Linked DNA regions of Homo sapiens: regions 2 and 3 are each linked to region 1. The links come from fine-mapping of genetic effects on gene expression. A gene starts in region 1. Each other region holds a variant in brackets. All regions are shown on one strand. Distances are from middle to middle.

Region 1 (8,170 bases):
GGTCATGCTGGGGGCGCTGGCGCCATACGCGGCCTGCAGGGCCTTCTCCACCAGGGCAATGCCCTCAAAGTGGTGCTCCTTCCAGTAGCTGGGAAGGGGGGACGGTGGCACAGGTGTCAGGGCCACATTGGGAGCCACAACCAAAGAGCCAACCAGGGCCACTGTCCCACCCCACACCCTGCAGCCCTGAGGGGCAGGTGTTCTCTCTAGCCATGGGTCTCCCACTTTGCTGGGCAAGAGAACCACTCAGGATGCTGGGCCCCTCAGCAGAGACCTCAACAAATCTTTATTCCTGAGGACTCATCAGCCTGCTCTTATTTTCCTTAGGGACACAAAGGCCGCTAAGATGGGTCAGGACTCAGCCCCAGGCCTCCTGGACCTCCCTCCAGAGCTCCTTCTTTCCTTCCTAGCAGGTGATTGCTCAGGAAAGAGCAACGACTTCAAGACCCCGAGGTCCAGGGAGTCTCCTTTCCTCCTGGAGGTCCCAAGACAACAAGAAAACCGATGGAGGGTTTGGAAATTCCCGAAGAAATTCAGGGGAGTAGGTGCAGCAGCGAGGAAAGGCCTTACCCCAGGAGCAGCCCAGGACTTCATTCCACATAAAGCTGACCCCACCCCAGCCATCCACACCAAGCACCCACAGCTTACCGATTCCTGTACATCTCTGCCCAGGTATTCCCAAAGAAGCGGCCCACGGGCTGTTTCCCATTCTTGTCCTCATACTTGTACTTGCCGGTCAGCAGGCCCCCTGAGGGAAAGCAGCAATCAGCCCCGGGGCCTAGAGTGCCCCAGAAGCTGCCACATCCCTCAGGGCTCTGGTCTAGGGGAGGGGCAGGGACCCAGGAGGGCTGAAGATGCAGCCTTTACGTCTTTGACCTCAGAGGTCAAAGTTTGTCAAACCCTCCTTGCTTCCCAGGTCCTGGGCTGGGCATCTGTGGGTCGGGAATAGGCTGAGACAGGGCCAGGAATGCTCCACGTACCAGCCAGAGGGTTGAAGGCATAGAACCTCAGTCCAAAGTGCCTGAGGCAGGGGAAGAGCTCCGTTTCCACCTGCCGGGTGATGGCATTGTACATGCCCTGTAAGGAGAGGGGCCCCGGGGGAGAGGGTGGATGTGTCAAAAGAAGAGACTTCAAAATTACCCTTCCAGAACCCTTATTTCAGACCTTAACAATTCTAGGACTTTAACCGTCTGGGCGTATACTTATTCTAACTGGTGCTGGTGAAAGAAGCTTATGCCCATGGAAAATTCATTCATTCTGCCAACTTTCATGAGCACCAACTATGGGCTGGTTGTCAGATTTAGATTCTTAAGCCAAAAGGACAGGGTCCCTTCCCTCAAGGTTTTATAATAAGGTCAAGTATAAACAGTTATAATCAAGTCATGAGGCAATCATAATAGACTAGAAAGTTCTGTGACCAGTGCCTGGCACCAAGCAGGTGTGCAAATATTTGTGCAATGAATCATGAGGAGGTAAACAAGGACCTGAGGTCTCAGGGTCTTCTGGGCCCATCTAGAAAGGCTTCCAGAGGAAGAGACACGTATGTGAGACCTGAACCATTCTCTCACGGAAGGGGCGGTGGTGGGGGAAGGGCTTGTTCCAGGCTGAGTGCAGGGGAAGGTAGGGAAGGAAGGGTCCAAGGTGCACAGATAGGCAGGAAGGAAGCAGATGCCCAGTGGCCAGCCTGAGGAGCTTGAATGGCATCCTGAGGGTACCTGGGAGCCATCTGCAGGCTTTCAGCAGGGGAGTGGCTGCTATGCAGAGGGCACAGGGGGCAGTCAGAGGGGCAAAGACAGCCCAGGATGAGCAGGAGTTCTGGAGACCTTGGCCTCTGCAGCCCTGGCTCTCACCTGGTACACAGTGGGCAGGATCCAGCCGTTGCTCTTGCAGAGGGTACAGATCTCGGCCACTTCCCAGGCTGCATAGTTGGAGAGGCCAAGCTCCACGAACTTGCCCTGCTCAGGTGAGGCTCCAGTCAGAACATAGTGCAGCCCAGACCAGGAAAGGGAGGCCAGGGTGGGGCCCCTGGGAGTTGGGCTGTTCCCTGCTCCACCCTGGAACAGCCCTGGTGCCTCTGCTCTCACCATTAGGATCAGGATAAGGAGAGCAGCAGTGGACCACCTCCCAGAGCTCAGGGGTCCCCTCACCTCCTGGTGCAGCTGGTGGCAGGCACGCAGTGTCTCTTCCACCGGGGTGCTGTGGTCTGGCATATGCAGGTAGAAGAGGTCCACTCGGGGACACTGCAGCCGCTTCAGTGACGTCTCCAGCTGGAACCGGAGACTGTCAGGCTTCAGGGAGTTCCCAAACAGTGGAATGGCCTTGGTATCAATTTTCACTGAGAGGAAAGAGAAATGAAATTCAGGGCCAGGCGCCGTGGCTCATGCCTGTAATCCCAGCACTTTGGGAGACTGAGGCAGGCAAATCAGAAGGTCAGGAGTTCAAGACCAGCTGGACCAACATGGTGAAACCCCATCTCTAATAAAAACACAAAAATTAGCTGGGCATAGTGGAGCCCGCCTGTAGTCCCCAGCTAGTCCGGAGTCTGAGGCAGGAGAATTGCTTGAACCCGGGAGGCGGAGGTTGCAGTGAGCCGAGATTGTGCCACAGCACAATGTCTCACAGAGTGAGACTTCTCAAAAAACAAACAAACAAACAAAACAAACAACAAAAAAAAAGAATCTTAGTTCCTAGTGAACTGGACTAACAGGTGAGTGGAGAGTCCTCTTCCCACTTTTCACACTTAGAAAGTCACCTAGGCTGGCAGGAGGGCAGTCACTGGAGCCCTTGAGGCCTAGCAAAGAGCAGGTTTGAGGAACTATTCATATGGAATTTTTCCATTCCACCACCACCCCTCTGCTTCTCAATTGAATTTAACTTCAGATCAGATCTGAGGACTTTCGCCAGCCAACCTTGGACTCAGACAGAAGACAAAGAAGGATTAAAAAAGGAAAGAAAAAAAAATCAGAAATAAGGGCCAGGCAGAGGGTACAGATCTGTGGTGGCTCACACCTGTAATCTCAGCACTTTGGGAGGCCAGAGCAGGAGGATCACTTGAGCTCAGGGGTTTAAGACCAGCCTGGGCAACAAAGTGAGACTCCAGTTTCAATGAATAATACAAAAAATTAGCCGGGTGTGGTGCTACTGTAGTAGTCCCAGCTACTCAGGAGACTGAGGTGGGAGGATGGCTTGAGCCCTGAGAGGTCAAAGCTGCAATGAGCCCTATCGCACCACTCCACTCCAGCCTGGGCAAAAAAGCAAGACCCTGTCTCAAAAAAAAAAAAAAAATCAGAAATATGGTTAGAGCTCTCACTGAGTGGCAGCCGGGTGATCTAGAAAGAGCGTGGCACTGGGATGCACGCACAGGCCAGGTTCGTTCTGGATCTACCATGTGGTGAATCAGAGGAGAAATAAGACTCCACTCAGACACTCAGTGGAAGGAGGCAAATGGTGCTAATACTAAGAACAAACAAACAGCTAACATTTCCCAGCCCTCACTATGTGCCTGCCAGGCATCGGCCTAAGCACTGCAAATGGCATCAGACTGAGGGCGGCTCCTCCTGCCCCTATACACACATCCTCCCCTCCGGCCACACCTGCCTCCTCCAGCACCCGCGGCATTGCCAAAACACATTTGCCTTTCCACACCCATGCCCACTGCCCTGACGCCCTTGCCCCTTGTACTCTTCCTGGCAAACTCCTATCCATTCTTTCTTCACGGGGTCCCTCCCAGGAAGGGGTCACTCTGGGCTCCCCAGCCATCTCTAGAACTGGAGCTTCCTGGAGTGGGTTAGTGTCCATTTCTCTCCAATAGCCTCCGACAGAGCCTCCCACAGAGAGGGCAGTGAGACTCTGTACCACCCCAATCCCTCATCCCCCTGAGGGAGCTGCCAAGGCTTCCGGGCACTGCCACCCTTGTGAGGTGCCCTTGTGAGTACCACAAGGTACTCAGAGCAAAGTCCGGGGCCCCGAGCAGGCTGGCATGTGCAAAGGAGGAAGCAGATAGTGTGCTGGGTCCAAACTCTGATTTTGGACTGTGCCAGGGAGTGCCAGGCGGTAAGAACAGAATTTCTGCAGATCAGGCCCGTCAAGGGCACCTGGAGGGCACAGGTGGGGACAGGAGCTGCACAATGCCAGATCCCAGTGTTTTTTGTGCTCCAGAGAGGGGCTAGCCAAGTCATTCCAGGCAAGACCAAGTCATCCAGGCGTCAGTGAGGGTGCTGGCTACCTCCCGGAAGAGAAGAGAGACGAACAGAAGAGAAGACGAGAGAAAAGTTGTCCGGAGCTAGACGTGCCTAAGGAGCCTGGTGTTCCCAAGGCTGCGAGGTGAACAGGGGTGGGGGCGGTGGGGGGGACAAAACTTTGGGTGCTGCCCCGGGGCCAGGGAGAGCGGGGCGGTACACGGCTGTGGACAGGCTCAGCTCTGCACCGTGCAGGGGGAGGATCAGGGGCCACTGTTACCTCTGCAGTCGCTGCCGCCCAGCCGGAGCCCCAGGCCGCCAAGGATGGTCTCGGACTGGCCCTCGCTGTACACGAAGGCCGTGTCTATCTCGGTGTGGCCGCGCTCCAGGAAGGCGCGCGTGACTGCGGCGCTGGTGGGCGCGTCCATGCGGCGCCCCATCTCCATGGCGCCCAGCACCGTGGCTGGCCGGGCCCGCGACAGCTGCCGGGACATGACGGCGGCAACGGGAGACTGTGACAGCCCAGGAGCCGCGCGCAGCGGTCGGAAGCACCAGGCTCGGAGCGGGCGGCCTCGTGGCTTTAGAGACGGGCTCGGGCCCCGCCCACCGGCGGGTGCAGCTGAGGGCGCGGCCGAAGGTGCCCGACGCCGCCCACGAGCTCGACTCCACGCTCGGCTACTAGGACCTTCTGCACTTGCACCGAGCAAGCAGCGAAATGGCTGTGGCTTCGTACCGGTGACTCGCGTCTTGGAGATTTTAACACTCCTCAACGTCCCCAAGGGTGAGGGGGTCCAAGGGTGGCGACTATCCCAAAAGGCGGGGACTCTTCGGGCCTCCCTGCCCCGTCGTCCCTCCTTCCTCGGCCTTGCCCCGGAGCTGTCCTGGGTTTCTGTCTCCTCCCGGAGGGAGCGCTTACGGGGTGGGGTGGACCTAGGGCTGTCGCGCCTGCCGTGTGGTCCTGGAGAATGAGGCTTACCAAAGGCTCAAGACAGCGTCCCCATGGAGTGACATGGTTAAAGTGTTGAAAGAAAAGAACTGTTGGCATTGAATTCTGTACCTAAGTGAAAAAAAACTGACTGGCTCTGGTGACTTAACGCCTGTAATGCCAACACTTTGAGAGATCAAGGCAGGAGGATCACTTGAGCCCAGGAGTTTGAACCCAGCCTGGGCAACATAGGGAGGCCCTGTCTCAAAAGAAAAAAAAAAAGATAGAAAAATGGACCAGTGCCCAGCGGCAGTGAGCTGTGATAGCTCTACTGCACTCCACCCTGGGTGACAGAGGGCAAATCTGTCTCCAAATACAAAAGAAAAAAAAAGACCAATAGACAGATGGAACAAATGAAAAACCAATAGCAAAATTGATTTAAACCCAATCATATCAATAATTACATAAATATAAATGATGTAAATGCTCACAAGTAAAAGGCAGTGATTGTTAGAATGGATAAAAAAGCAAAACCAAACTATATGGTAAATACCAGAAAGCTATTCAAATATAAAAGCAGAGATAGTTTAAGAGCAAAAAGATGGGAAAAGACATACACTGACAAAACTAAATTTTAAGAAGTTGGAATGGCTAAGTGAATATCAGACAAAGTAGATTGCAAAACAAAGAATACTGGCCCACACAGTGGGTGACATACTAGCCCACACCTGTAATGTTAGCACTTTGGGAGCCTGAGAAGGGAGGATTGCTTAAGTCCAGGAGTTTGAGACTAGCCTGGGCAACACAGGGAGATCTTATCGCTACAACAAAATTTTAAAAATTATCAAATTGTGGTAGCATGCACCTGTGGTCCCAGTTACTTGGGAGGCAGAGGTGGGAGAATCATCTACGCCTGGGAGGTCGAAGCTGCAGATTGAGACCCTGTCTCAAAACAGCAACAACAACAACAACTACCAAAGACAAAGAGGGACATACCATAATGACAAAGAGGTCAATTAATAAAGAAGATATAATTCTAAATATATATGCACCTAAGCATAGATCATCAAAATACATGAAAAACAATAATGGAACTAAAGAACAAGTAGATAAATACAAAATTATAATTGGAGATTTCAACACACCATTCTCAATAGTTGTAGAACAGTTATCAGTCATAATTTACGGAAACTCCGTAAAGGTATACAAGACTCAATGCTATGAACCAATTCCACATAAACAACATGAATAGAATATCCAACAACAGCAGGATATGCATTCTTTTCAAGTGCCCATCCACCAAGATATACCATATTTGGAGGCATAAAACAAGTCTTAATAAATGTAAAAGAGGCTGGGAGCGGTGGTTCACGCCTGTAATCCCAGCACTTTGGGAGGCCAAGGCATGTGGATTAACTGAGGTCAGGAGTTTGAGACCAGCCTGGCCAACACAGTGAAACCCCGTCTCCACTAAAAATACAAAAATTAGCTAGGCGTGGTGGCGTGCCCCTGTAATCTCAGCTACTCAGGAGGCTGAGGCAGGAGAATCACTTAAACCTGGTTGGTGGAGAGTGCAGTAAGCCGAGATCAGGCCATTGCACTCTAGCTTGGGCAACAGAGTGAGACTCCATATTAAAAATAAATAAATAAATAAATAAATAAATTTGAAAGGATTCCAATCATACAAAGTACATCTCTGAACACGATGGAATTAAACTAGAAAATAATAACACAGGCTGGGTGCGGTGGCTCACACCTTTAATCCCAGCACTTTGGGAGGCCAAGGTGGGCAGATCACTTGAGGTCAGAAGTTCAAGACCAGCCTGTCCAATATGGTGAAACCCCATCTCTACTAAAAATACAAAAAAATTAGCCGAGCATTGTGGTGTGTGCCTGTAATCCCAGCTACTCAGGAGGCTGAGGCAGGAGAATTGCTTAAACCTGGGAGGCGGAGGTTGCAGTGAGCCAAGATCGCACCACTGCACTCCAGCCTGGGTGACAGAGAAAGACTCTACCTCAAAAAAAAAAAAAAAAGAAAGAAAGAAAAAAAGAAAAGAAAAGAAAAGAATAACAGAATTTAGAGCCTGAGAGGGAACTGAAAATAAGTAAATAAGTTAACAAATAGAAGAAAAAGGAAAAATAGAAAATAATAATGGAATGATATCTGGAAAATCCCCACATATTTAGAAATTAAATAACCCATGGGTCAAATATGTAATCACAAGGAAAATTAGATCATATTTTGAACTGAATGAAAGTAAAAACAGGACATATCAAATTTTCTGAGATGCAGCCACAGTAGTGCTATGAGGGAAATTTATAGCACCACTTTGACATATTACAAAAGAAGAAATATTTCAGATCAATAATGTAAGCATTTACTTTTTTTTTTTTTTTTTTTTGAGACACAGTCTCACTCTGTCACACAGGCTGGAGAGCAGTGGTGCAATCTCAGCTCCCTGCAACCTCAGCCTCCTGGGTTCAATCAATTCTCATGTCCCAGTTTCCTGAGTAGTTGGAATTACAGGCATGCACCACCATGCCCGGCTAATTTTTGTATTTTTAGTAGAGAAGGGGTCTCACCATGTTTGCCAGGCTGGTCTTGAACTCCTGGCTTCAAGGGATCCTCTCGCCTCAGCCTCCCAAAGTGCTGGGATTACAGGTGTGAGCCACTGCACCGGCCGAGGCTTGTACTTTAAGAAACCACAAAAGGAAGAGTCAAGTAAAACCAAAATTAGCAGAAGAAAGGAAATAATAAAAATAATAGCCAAAATAGGCTGATGTGGGAGAATCGTTTGAACCCGGGAGGCAGAAGCTGCAGTGAGCCAAGATCACTCCTCTGCACGCCAGCCTGGGAAACAGAGCAAGACTCCATCTCAAAGAAAAAAAAAAGCCAAAATAAATGAAATATAAAACAAAAACATCAGCAAAAGTCAGTAAAACCAGAAGTAGTTCTATAAACACATCGCTAAAGTTGATAAACCTCTGGCTAGACTGATCAGGAATAAAAGAGAGAATACACAGATTAACCACACCAGAAAGAGCAGAAGAGACACCACTACAAATT
Region 2 (8,169 bases), 350 kb after region 1:
TTGATTTCCCTTCTTGATTCTTGGTGTCTCACCCTACCTACAAATAGTATTTTATTATTTTATTTTATTTTGTTTGTTTATTTATTTATTTATTGAGATAGGTTCTTTCTCTGTCACCCAGGCTGGAGTGCAGTGGTAAAATCATAGCTCACTGCAGCCTCTAACTCCTGGGCTCAAGAGATCCTCCAACCTCAGCCTCCCACGTAGCTGGGACTACAGGCACATGCCGCCACACCTGGCTAATTTTTAGTTTTTTTCTTTTTTTTCTTAGAGACAGGGTCTTGCTATGTTGTCCAGGCTGGTCTCGAACTCTTGGATTCAAGTGATCCTCCTGCCTCGACCTCCCAAAGTGCTGGGATTATAGGCATGAGCCACTGTATCTGACCCTACAAAGAACATTTGACATTTTTCCATGGGGCCAAGGACCCATGGAGTCCTTGGGGCCTCATTCCTGCTCTCCCGTCCAGGCCAAGACCCTCTGCAATCCTTGACAGCACAGGCTCCGTACTGTGGAACTCACAGTGCATGGCCACCTTCTCCTTCTGAGTCTTCTGAGTCCAAAATGGGGCCCAAGGTTTCCTGAGCCCACCAGCAGGGAGGAAGAGGCTAGAGGACACAGCCCAGGTGGATGGGCTCAAAGTCAGAACACCTGTTTCTGGTCCTGGATGTTCTGCTGACTTGCTGAGTGGATCTGGGCAAATCCTTTTTTCCTCTATGAAAAAGGATAATATAGCTGAGCTCAGTGGCTCATGACTATAATCCCAGCACTTTGGGTGGCCGAGGTGGGCAGATTGCCTGAGGTCAGGAGTTTGAGACCAGCCTGGCCAACATGGTAAAACCCCATCTCTACTAAAAATACAAAAATTAGCCGAGCGTAGTGGCACATGCCTGTAGTCCCAGCTATTCAGGAGGCTGAGGTGGGAGGATCTCATGAGCCTGGGAGGTGGAGGTTGCAGTGGGCGGAGATCGCGCCACTGCACTCCAACCTGGGTGACAGAGCGAGAGTCCACCTCAGACAAACAAACAACCCACCATAGTAACTACCACTTCCTGAGAGCCAAGCGTGTGCCGGCTCTGTGCCTCACATTCACGTCTCTCAGTGAATTCTGGGTGATCCTGGGGATGGGTCCTATTACAATTCCTGTTTTCCAGATGAGGAAACTGAGGCTCAAGAGATGCATTACTGGAGTAAGGTGAGAAAGCTTTGTGCTGAATCCTGGATTTGATCCAGGGCATCTGACTCCAGCACCTTTCCTGAGCTATATATATGAAACCTCCCTGAAATAGCTTTCATTTTATGGAGCACGTGCTATTTTCCAGGAACTGTGCCGAGAGCTTTGCATCCATTTATCTCCTTGAATCCTTGCTCCATCTCATTATAATCTCACCTTAAGTGTCACCTCTTTGCGACGTTTTCTGAGGCTTCTCAGTGAGTTCATACCTCCCCCATCACATCGCCCCCTCTGGCTTAGTTCGTTCATAATACTTTTTCTCCTTTTTTTCTTTTTTTTTTTCTGGAGACAGAGTCTCGCTCTGTCACCCAGGCTGGAGTGCAATGGTGCGATCTCAGCTCGCTGCAACCTCTGCCTCCCAGGTAGCTGGGATTACAGGCACGCACCACCACACCCAGCTAATTTTGTATTTTTGGTAGAGATGGGGTTTCACCGTGTTGGCCAGGCTGGTCTTGAACTCCTGACCTCAGGTGATCCACCTGCCTCAGCCTCCCAAAGTGCTGAGATTACAGGCATGAGCCACCACGCCTGGCCTCTCCTTTTTTTCTTTTAAATAAATATTATTATGATGATTATTTTTCGAGACAGAATCTCACTCCATCACCCAGGCTGGAGTGCTCTGGCATGATCTCGGTTCACTGCAACCTCCGCCTCCCAGGTTCAAGCAATTATCCTGCCTTAGCCTCCCAAATAGCTGGGATTACAGGCACGTACCACCACACCGGGCTAATTTTTGTCTTTTTATTAGAGACGGGGTTTCACCATGTTGGCCAGGCTGGTCTTGAACTCCTGACCTCAAATGATCCACCCAACTCGGCCTCCTAAAGTGCTGGGATTGCAGGCGTGAGCCATCACGCCTGGCTCTTTTAAATAAATATTAAACAACTGAACCTGGAACCTTCAGAACACATTGGTTATGTGAGATCCACTCATCTGTTTATCTGTTGCACAATCTGCCTGGGTGTGGCAGAACATAAGCTCCTTGGAGGCTGGGACCTTATTGGTCTAGTCTGTTGTTGTGTCCTCAACACCTCTGTGCATGTCTGGCACATAACAGGCACAATAAGTATTTGTTGGATAAATGAATGACTCCAGACAACAAATCTATGGAGTACATAGCACTACTAACTGCATTTTACAGATAAGGAAACCAAGGCCCAGGTGTGAAACAACTAGCACAGAGTCAGAGGGCGATGCAGGAACAATGTAAACCCTGAGCCTCCCCTGATGAGTCCGAATGGCTCCTCCCAGCTCCATACCTGGAGGTGTGAACGCTCTCATCTTTATCATAAAAAGAGAGGGACTGTGTACCAACCCTCTGTTCAGTGGGCTGGACTGGGAAGACAGGCCTTTTGCTTGTTTTCATTCTATTTCTCCAGCGAGAGTGCAGAGGTTTGGACCCCCGTTGAGGCCAGACTGACAGGATTAGAGGAAACAGCTGGGCTGAGTCCGTGCCCTGCAGGAGGGAGCTCACATTCCCGGACTCTGGGAGAGAGCAGCTCCCCACAGCTCAGTCACATTCCAGGTCGGTCATTTTCCTGAGCCCAGATGTTTGCTAATGAGCTGGGGAGAGGGGCTTTTAGCCCTGAGCCCCAGCTCTGGGCCCCACATTACCTCGGCCCCAAGAGGCTGGCCCAGGGCCAGGAGGCTCTGGCCTCAGGCCCATGCCCTGTGCCAGCCAGGCCTGTAGGGGCAGCTGGAACACCACTGCCAACCAGGTGCATCTGCTCGAGCTGGGACACTCTGACGTGACAGGTTCTGCCTTTCCCGCTGGGGCCCCTGGGGTCCATCTTCAGTGCAGCATCCCTGCTGCAGCCTGATGGGGAGGAGCACTGAGGCAGCCGAGAGGGTGGAGAGGGTGTGGTGGGCAAGGAAGCATGGACTTTGGTGTTGACAGGTCTGGGCTCAAGTCCAGGCTTTGTTAATCACTAGCAATGTGGTCTTGAGCAGGTAATGACACATTTTGGTGCCTCGATTTTTCTTACCTGTAAAATGGGAACAATGATGGGACTGTGGTAAGGATTAGAGGAGATGAAGCAGACAGAGTGACCAGCATAATGCCTGGCACAAAATGGGTAGATATTACTACCAAGTTACTTCCCAGGCCCCCTGCCCACACTGTAGCTTTCCCGTCACCAGACAGATGGTGACTCAACTCCAAACCCTTTGTCCCTGATTAGGGGGTTGGTGTTGTTCTTGAACCTCC[C/T]GGTGTTTGAGAGATGGTGGGCTGCCCTGTCAAGGGCACTGGCTGGAAGTTGTGGCTTCTACTCCTGGCTCTATGTGTGATCTGACCAGCTCATCAGGCTCCACAATTAGCTTTCTGCAATGTGGGAGTGGATTCTTACAAAATGTAGAACTCTACTTTCTACCCTGCTCGGGGTCTGCATGAAAGATGGCGGGGGTAAGCTTTGGCTGCAAAATGGTAAATATTTCCTGAGTGTCTACTGTGTACAGTGCAGTGAGGCTGGTTTCTGCCGTACATGGTATATAGTTATCCAACAGACACTAGCTGGCATGGGCTCTTACTGTGTGACTTTAGGCGAGTTACTTAACCTTTCTCTTGACGTTCCTTTTTTCACTTTTTTTTTTTTTTTTTGAGACAAGGCCTTGCTGGAGTGACAAGCTCATTAGGTTCCACAATTAGCCTTCTGCAATGTTGTCCAGGCTGGAGTACAGTGGCACAATCATAGCTCACTGCAGCCTCAAACTCCTGGGATCAAGTGATCCTCCAGCCTCGGGATTTTTTTCACTTTTATTATTTTATTTGTTTGTTTGTTTATTTATTTATTTATTTGAGATGGAGTCTCACTCTGCCTCCCAGGCTGGAGTGCAGTGGTGCGATCTCGGCTCACTGCAACCTCCGCCTCTCAGGTTCAAGTGATTCTCCTGCCTCAGCCTCCCGAGTAGCTGGGACTACAGGCACACGCCACCACACCTGGCTGATTTTTGTATTTTTAGTAGAGAGAGGGTTTCGCCATATTGGCCAGGCTGGTCTCGAACTCCTGACCTCAAGTGATCCTCCTGCCTTGGCCTCCCAAAGTGCTGGGATTACAAGCATGAGCCACTGCGCCTGGCACTTTTAAAACAGAGACAATACTTACCTCATAGGTTTATTGTGAGAGTGGCAACAGCTTGCAATGGGATGAGGCACATGGTAAGGTGCTCAATATGTGTGAACTATTATAACGGTCATAGTTACCATTAAGGGAAGACCTATCTGTGCTACATTAATGGGGGATAATAATTACTTTATTCGCTGGGCGTGGTGGTTCATGCCTATAATCCCAACACTTTGGGAGGCTGAGGCGGGAGGATCACTTGAGGCCAGGAGTTGGAGACCAGCCTGGGCAACATGGCAAAACCCCATCTCTACTAAAAATACAAAAACTAGCTGGGCGTGGTGGTGGGCGTCTGTAATCCCAGCTACTCGGGAGGCTGAGAATTGCTGGAACCTGGGAGGCAGAGGTTGCAGTGAGCCGAGATCACGCCATTGCATTTCAGCCAGGGCAACAAGAGCAAAATTCTGTCTCTAATAATAATAATAATAACAACAACAACAACAACAACAACAACTTCATTCAACCAAATACATTGTACATCTCACCTGGCCTGCCCATAAGCAATGGAGACACTGAAATAAACACGATTCCTGCCCTCAAGGTCTAATGGAGGAAAGAGATGTACACAGCTATTCTAGAGGGAAATTGACATGAACAGAAGTTCTCATCCTGTGCTCCAGGATCACACTGGAGGAGGGAGATGCTCCCAGAGGGTCTTGGGAAGGCTTTCCAATCTGGAGCTGGAAGAATGTTTGCCCAAGAGATGTACACAGTTATTCTAGAGGGAAATTGACATGAACAGAAGTTCTCATCCTGTGCTCCAGGATCACACTGGAGGAGGGAGATGCTCCCAAAGGGTCTTGGGAAGGCTTTCCAATCTGGAGCTGGAAGAATGTTTGCCAGAGATGAAAGGAGGGGAAGGGAATTCCGGGCAGAGGGAAGGGCGCAGGCAACAGCTAGGAGGCGCAGATGCAGGCTGGGTGTGGAGGGTGCGAGTAGGCTGGAGTACACCAGGGAGTTCCCAGCAGGCCACTAGGAGCCACCCAGGATGCCCGGCAACCTCATGAGTCAGACAAGCAGGGCTGTGTCTATCTGGAAGTTTCCAGCCAAGCTAGGTAAAACACATGGACACAGGTAACTATGCTGTAAAGCAAAATCCCCAAGTCCTACAATCGTGTCCCAGTGGTGTCCCTGGGCCACCACTTTCCAGAAGCAAAGTTATTTTCTCACCCCGTTGTTAAGCACACAGAATAGAGAAGGTACGGCCGCAATCCACCCAAGTGCCCACTGATTAGATAGGAACCCCCGAGGTGAGGCTGGAAGCTGGGGCCAGGAGCTCCACTCTTCCCAGGAGTCAGAGAAGTGAGTTCATTTGCTGGCTTTTTAGTTCCTAATAAGTCCCTGGGGCTTTTCGGGATGCTTAAGCCAAGGGCGTGGGGCCGAGAGCGACACTAGGATAACACTAGGCAAGGCTGAGCAACCCAGGCTACCAACAGCACGGACTTGAACCGGGTCGCATGCCGGAGCGGACGGGATGAGGTGCACCGCAGAACTGGGGACTCCTGGTGCCGGGACGCGGCGGGCTGGGGCGCCCCACTCTCGGGGCAAGTCTGCAATGCCCGGTGCCCACAAAAAGGACACATCCATCTTTGTCACCCCGAGGCCTGGCACGGCCTGACGGCCCAGGCTCGGTAAAAGTCGGGCGGAGAGAGTGGAAGCGCAGAGAAACCCGGGGAGGGCGCTTAAGAACGGGCCAGGGCGCCCGGCTGGGCTGCCCTGCCTCTCGGGCGCCGGCCAGGCGTCCCGGCCGCCCCACCACGCCGTCGGAGCGCGCCGAAGCTCAGCCCGGGGCGGGCGGGCCAGGAGAGGGCCCGGGGCCCCTGCCGCCGCGGCGCCCCCTCCTGCGCACCCGGAGGGAGAGGCCGCGCGCGCCCGCCCGCTCTTTCTGCGCGCGGCCCTCCCCGCTGCCCCCGCCCTCGCGCCCTGTTTGGAGGGAGCCACCCTGACGTCGGAGCCGCTCCCCCGCGCCGCGCGCCCGCCCGGGGCCGCAGACAGCGCGCAGCGCAGCCCAGCCGAGCGTCGCGGGGCCGCCCCCCGCCCTGCCGGCCGCCTCGCCGAGCCTCCTGGGGCGCCCGGGCCCGCGACCCCCGCACCCAGCTCCGCAGGACCGGCGGGCGCGCGCGGTAAGTCCCGCCCGGGTCGGCACGCGGGCGCCCGGCTTCCAGAGGCTTCGGCCGCGGGGGCAGTGCCGCGCCCCCAGCCCGGAGCTGCGTCCCCCGGCGCGTCCGGCGGCCGCGGGCACCGGGTGGAGGCGCCGCCGCCGAGCTCAGGAGCCCTGGGGGACCTGGCGGGCGCCTCCGGACGCCGGCGCTGGGGACGTGGGCGCGGCACGGGGTGGCCGGGGGGCACCGCCGCGTCCGGAGCCCGTCCCCAGACTCGCCCCAGGGTTCCGTTTCTGGATCGGAGTTTCCGCGGCCGGGGGAGAGAGGGAGCGAGGGAGGGAGATGCGTGGCCGGGCGGGCCGGGCTCGCATGTCCCCCGGCCGTGCCCGGGCCTCGCCGCGCCGCGCCTCTCGGCTCTGGACGTTTCCGCCTCCCGCGGCCCCCTCTGCTTCGGTCCCCACGTCCGTGTGTCTGTCTCTCCGTCGCTCCGTTTCCGCCGCTCACTTTCCCCTGGTCTGCCCGTCTCTTTCCGTTCCCCGCCTGCCTCCGTGTTCGGCTGCCCGCGTTTGTGTCTCTGCCTCTGGCTTTTCTCTCCCTCTCTCTGTCTCTGCGCTGCCCTCTGTGGGGGTCTCGCCCTGTGTCTGCGCCTCTCCCTGATCCCCCGCCCTCCGATCCAGACAATCCCCCAGTGTCGGAGGCTCGCCTTCCCCCAGCGGGGTTCACGAATAGTTTCCTAGACCGGGTGCGGCAAACCCTCCCCCTGCCTCCCGCCGGCCCCGAGGCCTGGCCCGGGTCATCTCCCTGGAATTGAGTCTGGGGCAGGGAGAGCCAGCCTTTCCGGGGGCTCAGTTTTCTTAAGAATTCCACCCCCGCGAGGCCGGCTGGACGACAGGCCCTGCTGCGGGCCACCTGCCCGGCCCGCTCCCAGGGCGGGGCGATTCTGATCGTTTACAAGCGGCGGCAAAGGGGGCAGCCGCCTGCCTTGGCGTGGCCGGAGGTTGGCGGGCATCAAGGGAGAAAGCCACACTTCCAGGCTTTCGGAGGCCCTCGCTCCCCAAGCTGGACGCCACCAGCCTGTAACTAGGGGCACCCCAGGAAAACAGAGGTCAGGGCTGGAGGCCAAAGACCGGGCGCTGGCGGGGAAGCAATTTGTCAACAAGGAGCCCCTCACCCTTTGTTACTGCGGAATGGGGCCTCCCTAGACTCCCCCAGATGCTGGGGCTGCTTGGGCGTGGTTTGCCTTGAGTTGGGGCCAAAGAAAAGGCGAGGCTGCAGCGTTTCCTCGGTGACCCCTACCCCTCTCCACCCACCCCTGCAAGCTGGACCTCTCTCCCGGGCCTGTGTTTTGGAGGGGTGGACAGGGGAGTAGGTGTTCTGCATCGGCCAGGGATATCGCCTCATTATTTTAAAGTGAAATTTCAGGCTGAGTTTAGCTGCTTCCCCCCACCCACAACCTCAAGGGTCGGAGGCTGCCGGAGCGGGCAGGGTTGTTGGTGAGGTCTGCAGTGGAACTTCTGCTGAGCAGATGTGCAGCCTGGCCCTGCAGCAGCTCATTAGCATGGATTTGTTTTGGAGACTGTTTTTCGTTTGCGGGCAGGAGGGTCTGCGGTAAGGAGGGCCGTGGCCTGGGTTTGGGGGCTGGCACAGAGGTGGTCAGGGCTGGAAGATGCAGGCAGGCCTGGGTGGCACGGGGTCGGCCCTGTGTGTCCGCCCTCT
Region 3 (8,175 bases), 61 kb before region 1:
CTCTGGAGCTACCTTGGGTCCCTGGTAGTGACCGCTTACCACCACCCAGTTCTCTGAATGCACGATATGGACAGGGCCTTTGGCTTTCTTCTGCACAGAGGAGTGAATGATACGCCCAGTGACGCCATCAATGAGGAAGATGCCAATAAAGGTGCGCTCATGGTGCGCGTCTGTGCTCTCTGTCACCACGGCCAGCAGGTTGGGGTTCAGGCTCTGGAGAGAGAGAGAAAACCTCCCTTAGAACCACGACGACTCATCACACACTCCATTCCTGTGCTGTGAGACCAACCTGGAGCTCTCCAGCCTGGCAGAGGAATCAGGGTTTCTGGTGAAAAGAGCTTCCTGTTTGGAATTTCTCATCACTGCACTTGTTTTATGTGCATTGGGTACTGGGTGCCATGCCAGGTACCTTGTATTTTATCTAATCCCTTAAACAGTCTTGCAGAGTAGCTATTATGGTCCACATTTTGCAGAAAAGTCCCAAAGTAGTTAAGCAGCTTTTCAAGTCACAGATAGCAAATGGTAACCCAAGACAAAATCCAGGTCTGCCCACTCATTGACCTAGGGACAAATGCTGCAGTGATATTTTTCTTCTGAGGGTCACCACCCCCCTCCCCATCGCTAAATCCAGTGGCTAAGTCTTGGCCCTCAACTTACTTGACCCACTAGTACCACGTGACGCAGGTGATCACTACCTCCTTGCGACATTTTCTCACCTGGCTTCCAGAACATCCCTGCCCAGCACTCCTTCTACTTTACTGGCCTCTCCTTCTCAGTCTCTTTTGGAGGTTCTTCCACATCTCCCCAGTTTCTTCATGGTGGAACACATCAGAAAGCTCTCAAGCCTTGAGCATTTCCGTCACACTTACCCTCGTGGTGATCTCAAGCCAATCTCATGGCTTGAACACCATTTATGGATGTTGGCAATGCCCAATGTATATATCCAAACCAGATACTCCTTTGAACTCCAGACTTCACTAAGAAATTATCTCAGTATCTTTTCTCAGATGTTTCATCTGAAACTTAACATGGCCCAAGCTGAACTGTTCTAACTCCTGCCTAAAATCTGCTCCTCTCTCCTCCCCAGCCAGTCACGACTCCATACATCAGTGGCTCAGACCTAAAGCCTCGAGTTATCCTTGACTCCTTTCTCTGTAACACACATATACCTGCTCTTGGCTCTACCTTCAAAAGTACCCAGAACCTGATCCCTCCTTCCCACCTCCATGCTACCAGCCCAGCTCCAGCCACCATCAGCACCTGGATGACCCCACAGCCTAAATGGTCTGCTTTCCTCCTCACCCCTCTACAGTCTAATCTAGGTCAAATGAGCCTGTGGAATCTCAGTCACTGATGTCACTCCTCTGCTGAAAACTTCCCAGTGGCTCTTCACCGTGCTCCAAAGTGAAGGCCACGGTGGTGGCCTGTGATCTGGCCCTGTTGCCCTCTGCCCTCAGCAGGCCTGACATGCCTCCTCACTCATCATCTTCTAGTTACCTGGTCTTCTTTGCTGTTTCTCACACATACCAGGAGCACTTTGACTTTTCTCTCTGGAAGGCTCTCCCCGCAGCTACCCACACAACTCACTTCCTCACTCAAGTCCACTCACTCCGTGCCACTTTCTCACTAAGCCCCTCCTTAGCCACCCGACTTACACTGTACCTGCTTTCCCTCTTCCCGGCTTTATTTTTCTCTATAGAACTGGTCACTTTCTAATATACTATCTAATTTACCTATTTATTTTCTTTATTATTAGCCTCACCCAACTATGATGAAAGCCTCACGAGGTCAGGAAGTTTTGTCTGTTTTGCCCATTTTATATCCCAGTGTCTAAATGAGTGCCTGCATCCAGCTAGCACTCAAAAACTGCTTGCTGCTGGCCGGGTGCGGTGGCTCATGCCTGTAATCCTAACACTTTGGGAGGCCAAGATGGGAGGATTGCTTGAGCCCAGGAGTTTAAGACCAATCTGAACAACACAGCAAGACCCCATCTCTAAAGAAAATAAAATAAGTGCCTGGGCACGGTGGCTCCCGCCTGTAATCCCAGCACTTAGGGAGGCCAAGGCGGGCAGATCACGAGATCAAGAGATCAAGACCATCCTGGCCAACATGGTGAAACCCCATCTCTAAAAATACAAAATTTAGCTGGGCATGGTGGTGCGCGCTTGTAGTCCCAGCTACTCGGGAGGCTGAGGCAGGAGAATCTCTTGAACCTGGGACGTGGAGGTTGCAGTGAGCCAAGATCGTGCCACTGCACTCCAGCCTGGTGAAAGAGCAAGACTCCATCTCAAAAAAAAAGAAAAGAAAGAAAAGAAAATAAGCCATGGTGACATGCACCTGTTGTCCCAGCTGCTTAGGAGGCTGAGATGGGAGGACTGCTTAAGCCCGGGAGGTCAAAGCTGCAGTGAGCTGTGATCACACCACTGCACTCCAGCCTGGGCAACATGGCAAGACCCTGTCTCAAAAAAAAAAAAAAAGAGTCAATAGCACTAATAATAATGTTAAGTATGTGGCAGGCACTATTCTAATCACTTTACATGTTATCATTAATCTTCAAAACAATCCTCTGACGTTGGTGCTATTATCCCCATTATACTGGGGAAAATTGAAGCTCAGGCAGCCTAAGAGATGAACAGCTAGGCCACGGCAGAGCCAAGTCTTAACAGTCAAACTAGAGGCTTGCACTGTGTTGCACTGGCTCATGCTTAGTGATCCAGCTTTACCGTCAAGTTCCGTGATCTCTATTCTATGACACCCCCTCCAATTCAGTCTCTGCTGTACCAGAGGGTGTAATTAATGTGCATTACTACTATCATTACATTCTCTCCCATAACAGTTTTGCAGCCCACTAGTCACCTTAATCTCCCTCTCTTTAACACTAACTAGAGTGTTGGATCACAGAGATGGAGTTTCTGATGGCTCGACTATGGTTTAACCCCAGAATGCTCTATCAGTACTACCACTAGTAATAAGAGCTGGGCTAGGCGCAGTGGCTCAAGTCTCTAACCTCAACACTTTGGGAGGCTAAGGTAAGAGAACTGCTTGAGGCCAGGAGATAGAGACCAACCTAGGCAACATAGTGAGACCCTGTCAATATAAAAATAAAAAATTAAAAAAAAATTTTTTTTTGAAGACAGGGTTTTACTATGTTTCCTAGGTTGATCTCTATCTTCTACAAAAATAAAAAATTTAAAAAAAATTTTTTTTGTTTGTTTGGAGACAGGGTCTCACTCTGTCACCCAGGCTGGAGTGCAGCGGCACAA[T/C]TGCAGCTCACTGTAGCCTCAACCTCCCCAGGCTCAGGTGATCCTCCTACCTCAGCCTCCCGAGTAGCTGAGACCACAGGCATGCACCACCATGCCCAGCTAATTGTTTTTTTTGTTTTTTTTTTTTGGGGGTGGTAAAGACAAGGTTTCAGCCATGTTGCCCAAGCTGGCCTCAAACTCCTGGACTCAAGTAATCCACCCACCTCGACCTCTCAAAATGCTGGGATTACTGGCATGAGCCACCAAGCCCAGCCGTTTTTAAAAAATTAGCATGACATGTGCCTGTGGTTCCAATTACTTGGGAGACTGAGGTGAAAGGATTGCATAAGCCCAGGAGGACGAAGCTGCAGTGAGCCATGACTGCATCACTGCACTCCAGCCTGGGCAACAGAGCAAGACTCTGTCACAGGAAACAAACAAACAAAAAAAAAGTCAAAAAAATAAGAGCTAACATCTGTTGCTTACTTACCATATGCTAGGCACTGGGCTAGACATGAACATCCCATGTGATCATCACAACAAGCCCAGGAGGAGGGTATATTATCCCCATTTCACAAACAAAAATTAAGGCTCAAAGGGATTAAATGACTTACTCAAGGTCATATATGTACCAAGTCCTACAGCCAGACTTGAAGCCCTTGTTTTCCTGATTCGAAAGCCCTTGCTGTAGACCAGACAGCTGGCTGTATGTACCTTGTAGAGCACACTGCGGTCCCCCATCACACGGCCCTGGGAATGAACGTGCTCACTGCTGCGTTTCCCCTTCACCTTGACGATCCGCTGTACTTCTGGGGGAATGGTCAGCTCCCAACTCAGCTCAGTGGTGAGATCCTAGGGCAGGGGCAAAAAAGCCTGTAATCAGGAGGGTACACTTAGAACTGAAACAGCTGGAGTTAGACACATCCTACAGTTCATTATTTGAGGCCTTTGTGCAGGAAGGAATAGAGATCAGAACTAGAAAAATGAGCCAGGAGCAGTGGCTCATTCTTGTAATCCCAGCACTTTGGGAGGCCAAGGCGGGCGGATCACTTGAGGTCAGGAGTTCAAGACCAACCTGGCCAACATGGCCAAACCCCATCTCTACTAAACATACAAAAAATTAGCCAGATGTGGTGGCAGGCACCTATAATCCTAGCCACTCGGGAGGCTGAGGCAGAGGCTGCAGTGAGCTGAGATCACGCCACTGCACTCCAGCCTGAGTGACAGAGCAAGACTCAAAACAAAAAATAAACCAGAAAAACAGCAATAGAGATCTAGTTTATGAAGAAATTTCAGAACTCTCGGTTTGATTAAGATAGATACTAGACCGGGCGTGGTGGCTCACACCTGTAATCCCAGCACTTCGGGAGGCCGAGGCAGGTGGATCACCTGAGGTCGGGAGTTTGAGACCAGCCTGACCAACATAGAGAAACCACATCTCTACTAAAAATGCAAAATTAGCCGGGTGTGGTGGCGCATGCTTTTAATCCCAGGTACTCAGGAGGCTGAGGCAAGAGAATCACTTGAACCCAGGAGGTGGAGGTTGCAGTGAGCCGAGACTGCACCATTGCACTCCAGCCTGGGCAACAAGAGCGAAACTCCGGCTCAAAAAAAAAAAAAAAAAGATAATAAAGCCAGTAGGAAAGGAGGCGAACGCTCAATAGTATCCCGTTGTTTATCTGAGTAGGAAATATGCAAGGAAAATTTACCATTTATTACTAAACTCCAAGATCCCTGTATACTGGGGCCAGCAGTGAATGTCTAAGCTAACAGGGAGCTCAAAACATTTCGTGTATGATTGTTTATGGTCATAGGAAACCAACCAATAAACACTCATGGTTAAATACATTATTATACATCCATCCTATGGAATTATGCGGAGCCCTTGGGGGTGGAGACAGGAGGTAGTTACTGGCAAAGGGCACAAGGGCCTTCTAGGAGCTGGTGCTATTCTGTTTCCTGAAGTGGTCACCAGGTACACAAGTGTATTCCCTTGGTGAGGGTTCACTGAGCCATACCTCATGATTTTGCACTTTTGTCAATATTTTTCTGTAATAAAAAACTGAAGTTGACAAAACAATGAGGTAGAAAACCCATTAAATGAAAAAAAGCAAATTTCATAAGAATAAATATAGGTCAATTGCATGTGAATGAGAAAAAAAAATAAAATGGGCCGGGCGTGGTGGCTCACACCTGTAATCCCAGCACTTTCGGAGCCCGAGGCGGGAGGATCACTTGAGGTCAGGAGTTTGAGACCAGCCTGGTCAACATGGTGAAACCCCGTCTCTACTGAAAATACAAAAATTAGCCAGGCATGGTGGCGTGCACATGTAGTCTTGGGAAGCTGAGGCAGGAGAATCGCTTGAAACCAGGAGGCAGAGGTTGCAGTGAGCTGAGACTGCGCCCCTGCACTCCAGCCTGGGTGACAGAGCGAGACTCTGTCTCTAAAAAAAAATAAATAAAGTATGAGCCACACACGTGTGTCCACACAGCTGTTGATAGGGAATCATAAATACACAAGGACAGTAGAAAGAGGCACAGCAAACTGCTGACAGGCTTTCCACCTGGGGAGGGGAAGACCGCTGGGAATGGGGCTACAAGGGTCTGTTCACATTTTGCTTGTTCACCTCTCTGTATCAATGGACTCTTTTACAATGAGAATATACTCAATGTATTACCTAAATTTTTAAAATAGTGAAAATTATTAATAATAAGCCTTCATTGCCACAACCTTCTTTGAAAACATAAGAACTCACTAAAACATCCCCAGAGAGGAAGGTCACCAAGTGAGGGCAAAGGCAGCACACTCCCTTGTGGTCCCGGACTCGCGCACACAGCTGGCTCACTTCCCACAGACAGCTCTGCCTCCTTTGTCTTCCTTGGTCATTGTTCACTCAGATGATGTCCTCAGGACTCCAGATTCATGACACCCACACTCCAGTTCACTCCCCTGAATCTACAAAACTGTCTCTTTCAAGGTCCTCTTTTTATTAACTCAGAAGGATGATTTTATTTATTTATGTTTTCATTCACAAGGGTAAAGGATGTGTCTTCTGGGCAGACCATTTCCAGTGCTGTTTATGCTAAGGTTAGCTGTTACAAATGTCACAAAAGGGCGCTGCATTTTCAAAACAACAGCACCTCCAACTCAGATGGCATTTACCATGTGCCAGGCAGTTTTATGTGATTTATGTGTTGAATTCTCACAACAACCTTATGAGACAGGTACTTATCACCTTATTTTACAGATAAGAAAACAGAAGACCAGAGCCCAAGGTCACAAAGTTAGTAAGTGACAAACCTAGACTTCCAATCTAGCAAATTGGTTAAACTCTATGCCTCTCAAAAGGCCTTACAGGACAGGATGGGAGAGCTGTTTGTGAGTACACACCACAGAGTACTTCTCCAAACAGTCCTGCTAACAAGGCCATGCCAGCCCCTCGTGAACTTCAGAGCTGGACTTCACAGCCAGCGTGTATTACTGTTTACAAGAGTTGGTCTCAAGTATGTGAGGATTAAAGCAAACTGACCCCCTTTCTAGAAATAAAATTCAAAGCACACATTCCATCACGAGTTGGTCAACATCATCTTCATATAAAAGTACAACTTATTACTCAACCCACATTCCTACCTTCTACCCTCCCAAGAATGGAAAAAAAGTCCCATCTCTCTGCTATAGAAAAATAATGGGGCCAGGCGCGGTGGCTCACGCCTGTAATCCCAGCACTTTGGGAGGCTGAGGCAGGTGGATCACAAGGTCAGGAGTTTGAGACCATCCTGGCCAACACAGCAAAGCCCTGTCTCTACTAAAAATACAAAAAATTAGCCGGGCGCGGTGGCGCACGCCTGTAATCCCAGCTACTTGGGTGTCTGAGGCAGGAGAATCGCTTGAACCAAGGAGGCAGAGGTTGCAGTGAGCCGAGATCGCACCACTGCACTCCAGCCCGGGCGACAGTGCAAGACTCCATCTCAAAAAAAAAAAGAAAAAGAATGTGGAATGAAAGCTCCACAAGGGCAGAGATTTGTTCTACTGTGCACCACTCCATCCACAGCACCTAGAACCGTATCTGCCATGTAGTAGCTGCCCAACAAATATGAACAAATGATTGACTTTGTATCAGACATCAGGATTATGCTAATCTAAGTTTACAGTAGAATGAGTAGCATAATTCACTTCTTAGCCAAATGGCCAGGAAACACCTGCATCTCATCCACAAAGGGTTGTGCCAGGACATGCCTTCCTACCTTTCGAAGCCGATATCCACACAGCCGTCCCTGCTCTGCATCCACCAAATAGAAGAAGATGGAAGGGGCAAGCTCATGTAGCTGTCGCAAGACATTCCGAGTGGCTGGAAAAGCTGTGACCTTGAAAAACCCAGAGAGCCCAAGGAAAGAGTTAGGAAATTTCCCCATCAAAGAGAGCCTTAAGAATAAAACTGCAAATCAGTTGATTTGAACTCAGTTTAGGGTTTACATTCAGTTCTGTTAAGAACCTGAGTTTTCACAAATGCAGACACAGCCATCATTTCTCTTCGGGATGGCCTTAGAGCCCAAACACGTGCTGGGTGCAGAGAGCACTCCATCTCCGGGCCGCTGTGTTTGACCACCTGGCCCCAAACCGGACTCCGCTAGCATGTTCTCCATCCCCTCTGAAGACAGTACCTTGTATTCATCATCTATCAACAGCAACACCTTGGCGTAGTCTTGATCCATGACTGGGAGAAGCAAGGACTGCAAGATGGGGCGCTTCAGCACTGGGGGAGCTACCTGACTCCACTTCCCAAAAATGGGATTGAAGACATACAGAGAACTCATTCCCGACTCCTAAAATGAGCAAACTGTCAGGCTCCACCAACAAGAAAAGACTGCAAATCCTAGGGATAGACCTGAAGAGCTGGGACTCCAGCTCAACAACTGTGGGGGTTCTCTAGTC

Evidence for each region. PIP is the estimated chance that this variant, and not a neighbour inherited with it, causes the effect.
Region 2: its variant is fine-mapped to the expression of AKR7A3 in subcutaneous fat (GTEx, PIP 0.95).
Region 3: its variant is fine-mapped to the expression of AKR7A3 in ovary (GTEx, PIP 0.97).

Annotation. Positions count from the first base shown.
Region 1 is chr1:19,284,038-19,292,207 of GRCh38, forward strand. AKR7A3 (aldo-keto reductase family 7 member A3) reads right to left here and starts at 4,733. Exons shown (of 7, transcript NM_012067.3): 1 at 4,459-4,733; 2 at 2,148-2,335; 3 at 1,851-1,955; 4 at 981-1,077; 5 at 649-748; 6 at 1-88. The coding sequence starts at 4,672. LOC124903867 (a long non-coding RNA gene) reads left to right here and starts at 4,023. Exons shown (of 3, transcript XR_007065521.1): 1 at 4,023-4,323. RefSeq lists enhancers at 1-465, 3,966-4,788, 4,789-5,610.
Region 2 is chr1:19,637,973-19,646,141 of GRCh38, forward strand. The region is part of intron 1 of MICOS10-NBL1 (MICOS10-NBL1 readthrough); the gene reads left to right. NBL1 (NBL1, DAN family BMP antagonist) reads left to right here and starts at 6,339. Exons shown (of 4, transcript NM_005380.8): 1 at 6,339-6,474. RefSeq lists an enhancer at 5,351-6,186 and a silencer at 6,085-6,424. The variant C/T (reference allele first, on the strand shown) is at 3,439.
Region 3 is chr1:19,223,357-19,231,531 of GRCh38, forward strand. It overlaps EMC1 (ER membrane protein complex subunit 1), which reads right to left. Exons shown (of 23, transcript NM_015047.3): 16 at 7,905-8,066; 17 at 7,488-7,607; 18 at 3,957-4,094; 19 at 40-213. The region is part of intron 1 of EMC1-AS1 (EMC1 antisense RNA 1); the gene reads left to right. Among named protein-coding and RNA genes, the nearest start is that of EMC1-AS1, 17 kb to the left of the region's middle. The variant T/C (reference allele first, on the strand shown) is at 3,264.